2 separate regions of the Homo sapiens genome follow, and region 1 is linked to region 2. The links come from fine-mapping of genetic effects on gene expression. A gene starts in region 2. The other region holds a variant in brackets. All regions are shown on one strand. Distances are between the middles of the regions.

What was found. PIP is the estimated chance that this variant, and not a neighbour inherited with it, causes the effect. A credible set is the group of variants that fine-mapping cannot tell apart.
Region 1: its variant is the best candidate, but not a certain one, in a credible set for the expression of PKD2L1 in prefrontal cortex (CommonMind, PIP 0.89).

Annotation. Positions count from the first base shown.
Region 1 is chr10:100,303,995-100,306,494 of GRCh38, reverse strand. All of the region lies in intron 2 of PKD2L1 (polycystin 2 like 1, transient receptor potential cation channel), which reads left to right. Among named protein-coding and RNA genes, the nearest start is that of BLOC1S2, 19 kb to the right of the region's middle. The variant AG/G (reference allele first, on the strand shown) is at 1,380.
Region 2 is chr10:100,329,280-100,332,232 of GRCh38, reverse strand. PKD2L1 (polycystin 2 like 1, transient receptor potential cation channel) reads left to right here and starts at 2,005. Exons shown (of 16, transcript NM_016112.3): 1 at 2,005-2,364; 2 at 2,909-2,953. The coding sequence starts at 2,130.

The sequences.
Region 1 (2,500 bases), 26 kb after region 2:
AGTGAACTCAGTGATTTTCCCCTGGAGTGGGAAGCAGGTGTCCTAAGTGTTCTGTGTAGTTTGTAAGTCATCTTGAGATCCCTGGGAAGTTCTGAGAGCCCTCTGGAAGCTTTTTTCTCTTTCTACTCTCTATTTTGGAATCACCAAAATAGATACTGGGAAACCCACTGCCTTCTTGACATTTCTATTGAAGACAAGTAGGACTGATTGCTTGTCTGATTGCAACAGGTCAAGGCAGCAGTTCTCAAAGTGTGGTCCCATGACCACGAGTATCACTTTGGAACTTATTAGAAATGCAAATTGTTGAGCCCCACCTAAACCTATAGCAATCCATGTTTTTTAGGGGTTGGTTTGTTTTTGTTTTTGTTTTTTGAGATGATCTTGGCTCACTGCAGCCTTGACCTCTCATCTCTCACCGAGTAGCTGGGACCCCAGGTGCACACCACCATGCCCGGCTAATTTATGTATTTTTTTTGTAGAAACAGGATCTTGCCACGTTGCCCAGGCTGATATCGAACTCCTGGACTCAAGTGATCCACCTGCATCAGCCTCTCAAAGTGCTGGGATTATACGAGTGAGCCCTGTACTTGGCCAGCAATTTGTGTTTTAAAAAGCCTTCCAGGTGATTCTGATGCATGCTAAAGTTTGCTTATCATCGGTGGGTTAAGAAAAGGGGAGAAAGACACATGAGCCAAATCATCACCCCATGTACAACCCTGGGCTTCCTCTGCCCTGCTTTTAGATTCAGATTCCTGCAGCCTCCATGCCTGATGCCCATCTGATGCTCTCGACGGATGACTTATTAGAGAGACTGAGTTCTGCCAGCACCATTTCTACCTTCACGCTGTGTAGGGAGGGGTTCCTGGTAAACTGTGCTTGCTTGCTAGGTCAATCAAGGACTGGCTTTATTTCTCTTACCCAAGACTTGAATGAATGTATTGTTCTCTTTGGACTAAGGAATATTCCAGCCTCTTTCCAACATTTACTAAATATAAGTTGTCCTTGACTATTTTGATGACATTGCTGTGATGGGTCAAACATGGATTAATGATGCTTTACTCAGTTTGAAATTGATTCACTTGGCCGGGTGTGGTGGTGCAAGCCTGTAATCCCAGCACTTTGGGAGGCCAAGGCAAGTGGATAATTTGAGGTCAGGAGTTCGAGACCAGCCTGGTCAACATGGTGAAACCCCTGTCTCTACTGAAAATACAAAAAATTAGCCAGGTATGGTGCCGGGCGCCCGTAATCCCAGCTACTCAGGAGCCTGAGGCAGGAGAATAGCTTGAACCCGGGAGGCAGAGGTTGCAGTGAGCTGAGATCACGCCACTGCACTCCAGCCTGGGTGACAGTGCGAGACTCCATCTCAAAAAAAAAAAAAA[AG/G]ACAAGAAGAGAAAATGATTCACTTATTTCATTTCTACCCTTTATTATAGTATTATAGTTATTTTTCATTTTTCCACTGTTGGTTCAACCAACAAACACTTATTGGGAAGCTACTCAACTACTTATTGAGTTGCCTAAAAGGTATTATATTCCCAGTTTTACAGATGAGAAAGCTGAGACTCAGAGCCCAAGTCTATACTGTAAGTGGCAGAGCTGGGATTTGAACCTAGATCTGTCTGGCTGCAGTGCTCATGCTCATTCTGCTACATCAAGTTCATTCTGGGACACGTCTTCCTCAATAGAACTTTTTAAGGATAGAAACCATGACACTGCTGGTCATGGTGGCTCACGCCTATGATTCCAACACTTTGGGAGGCTAACAGCGGAGGTCAGCTTGAGTTCAGGAGTTCAGGACCAGCCTGGGCAACATAGTGAGACCTTGTCTCTACACAAAATTTAAAAAGGGGTGGCATGCACTTGTGGTCCCAGCTACTCAGGAGGCTGAGATGGGAGGATCACTTGACCCCAGGAGGTTTGAGGCTGCAGTGAGCTATGATAGTGCCACCCCACTCCAGCCTGGGCAACACAGCAAGACCCTGTCTCAAAAAAAGGAAAAGAAAAGATAAAGATAAAAGAAACCGTGACACCTAGCAAGGTATTTTATACATTGTAGAATTTGAATAATGTTTGTTTAATGAATATAAAATGTGTTTTTAGAATAATTCAGGTTGATAGGCTGATAATATGGGCTACTAACTATGAACATCGGAGGTATTAGAAATACTCGGTTTGGGTTTCATAAAATGGTGGGAAAGTACCCCTCATCTCATGGGATGGAGTACAAAATTCACAGATGTAAGAATTAATGAGGGAGAAAGAGTGTTTGTATGGGGAGAGAGTGTTGAATAGGTACTAAACCAAATTTAGATTCTAATTTAGAAAATTTTTAAGGTTGCTTCTTGCTCTTTTCTGTACCTATGCACTTCAATTTAAAAAGTTACAAATAGCGAATACTGAATTTCTGCCTGTCAATAGGCATTTTACCAGGTCAAGCCATTTTTCTCAGAAGACGTGTAATATTTACTGCCTTGTATAATAATCAGAGATATTATGCATCCAT
Region 2 (2,953 bases):
TTAACATAATGTTCTCTAGGTTTATCTATGTTGTCGTAAATGACAGAATTTTCTGTGTTTTTTTTTTCAAGGCTGAATATATTATATTGTGCATATATACCACATCTTTTAAATCCTTTCGTCAGTTGATGGATACTTAGATTGTTTCCATATCTTGGCTATTATTAATAATCCTGCAATGAACATGGGAGAGGAGACATCTATTCAACACACTGATTTCAATTCCTTTGAGATTCTTGGAACATATGGTAATTCTATTTTTAGTTTTTTGAGGAACCTCCATACTGTTTTCCAAGATGTCCGTACTAATTTACAATACAGCCAAGCATACAAGGGGCCCCTTTTCTCCACAGCCTTGCCAACACTTGTTATCTTTCTTTCTTTCTTTTTTCTTGAGACAGGGTCTTGCTCTGTTGCTCAGGCTGGAGTGCAGTGGTGTGATTTCAGCTGACTGCAGCCTCAACGCCTCAGCCTCCCCAGCTCAAGTGGTTCTCCCACCCCAGCCACCTGAGTAGCAGCTGGGACTACATGCACGCACCCCATGCCTGGCTAATTTTTGTTGTTTTGTTGTTGTTTTGTAGAGGCGGTGTTTCACCATGTTGCCCGGGCTGGTCTTGAACTCCTGAGCTCAAGTGATCCTCCTGCCCTGGCCTCCCAAAGTGCTGGAATTACAGGTGTGGGCAACCACACCCAGCCAAGATCTCTTTATAGGGACACTCAAGACTGATTATTTTGACAAGGCTGATGTTTTGCTGAATGTGAAGGTGGGCTTCAGGCCAGTGAGTAGCCCTGGGTGGGGAGCCAGGAGTTAGGAGAGGAAAGTCTCTGCTCTAGCCTCAAGGAGGAGAAACTGCAGGGTGACCACCACAACCTGTGGGATCAGCCCCATTCTGGGGCATCATGCATGCCTATAGGGGAGCTGGAGCAGGTGATCAGAAGCTGGAGCAGGGCATAGGCAGGGATGTGCTTGGGGGCCCATGACACAGTTTTAATTCAGAGACCTGCAGTTATAAAGAAAGCAGATTAATCCTGATATCATGGATAGTTCCACTTTGTGCTCAAGTTTACGATTCTAGGCCCAGGACTAAGCAGAGCCATGGGAAAAGGTTCCCAGCTCAGCTGGGTCCAGATATCCACTCCCCTTTAGTCCCACATCATACTGTCCTTGTCCTTTGTTCTCCGATCCAGCCTCCCAACCAGGTCTTAGCCTTTTTCCCATACTGAGCCCCACACCCTTAAGGAACCCCCTCTCTTGGTGTATCTCACCTGTAAGCCATGGAAAGGCAAGCTTCAGAACAAGGAATATAGACAACCTAGGACTCTGTGGTCCTCTCCCCTGCCCCCTCAGTGCCCTGAAGTATGTGAGACTGGGGTTCCTCCTGCCACTGTCCTTTCCCCACGGCTGAGAGGGTGAAGTGAGGGAAGGGAGCTGCCCATCTCTGCTCCACCAGGGGACAGCTGAAGGTGAGACAGGACAGGAGCCTCAGACCCATTGACTGAACCTGGGAGGTGGGCAGAGCCTGGGAGGGGGACAGCGCTCTTCAGCTTTCCTCCCAGCCTTGGTCCCCACCCCAATCCATGTCGGCCCTTTTAGGAGCTTTTAGTGGAAATGAGCTCAGACCCGCAGCACAGGCCCCCGGCTCCCCTCCTGTCTCAGCTCCTCCCATTGCTCTTTGATCGTCTCTTCTGTCCGACCTCTGGGCCATCTCTCCACCAGGCACATCTGCGAGCAGCCCCCTTCATCCCCAGCATCGCCTTTTCCTCCCGTTTCTCCTTCCACTCCCAGCTCCACATCCTCCTCCTATTCTCCCCTCTCCCCTCTTCAAACCCCCACCTTCCAGTTCCCTCACCTCCCCTTTCGGCTGGTCCCCTGGGGCTTGCAGCAAGAGGGAGAGAGAGCTCCTGACAGGATTGATGGTCCTTCCCCACCCTGTCCTCTCATCCGCTCCCTCCCCAGCAGGCACAGACATCCCCCTACAAAAGGCAGGAGCCCAGGCTGTGTGGAAACAGCTGCTCTCAGACGCCTTTCCATTTGCTCTCTGCTGGCTAGGCTGGGCTGTGCCTCTGCTCCCTCTTCCTCTAGCTGAGAGTGGGCACCTGGGGTACCGGGCCCCCCCACCTCATTCCCCATGAATGCTGTGGGAAGTCCTGAGGGGCAGGAGCTGCAAAAGCTGGGGAGTGGAGCCTGGGACAACCCCGCCTACAGTGGTCCCCCTTCCCCACACGGGACGCTGAGAGTCTGCACCATCTCCAGCACGGGGCCTCTCCAGCCCCAACCCAAGAAGCCTGAAGATGAACCCCAGGAGACGGCATACAGGACCCAGGTGTCCAGCTGCTGCCTCCATATCTGTCAAGGCATCAGAGGTACCAGATAGGGGGACAGTTCTCCTGGGATATTAGAATCAGGAGGAGTCACCAAAAGCTTTTGGGCAGGGGGTGGGGGTGGAATGTGATCTGAAGAAGAGGTGACCTTTCGGTGTCACTTTGGGGTGTATGAATTGCCCATGGTAGTGCTGCATGACCCAGAACACAGAGGCCAGCTGAGCGGTCTACCGGTTGTGGGAGCCTGGCATGGTCATCACCTGGGGATCCAGAGAGGTATGTGGGAGCTGGTTTGAGGGAGGACATGGATGTGATGATGCCCTAGACTACCCCACCTGGAACAGGTGCCTCCTTTCCATGCCTTCATTCTCTACAAGCCAGGGCCTTCACCCCTGTCGACCTCAGGGAGCTGATGGGAAGAGCAAGCATGGGTGTGGGTACAGTAGCCAGATTCAGCCAAGGATGAAGGTGATGGGCAAGGAAGGGCAGGGGTGGAAAGGGGCTAAAGTCCAGAGACAGATGGGTGGGGATGACTGGGAGGAACACTGCCACTGAGCATCCCAGGCATCTCTCCCATGCCCCTTAGGACTTTGGGGAACAACCCTGACTGAGAACACAGCTGAGAACCGGG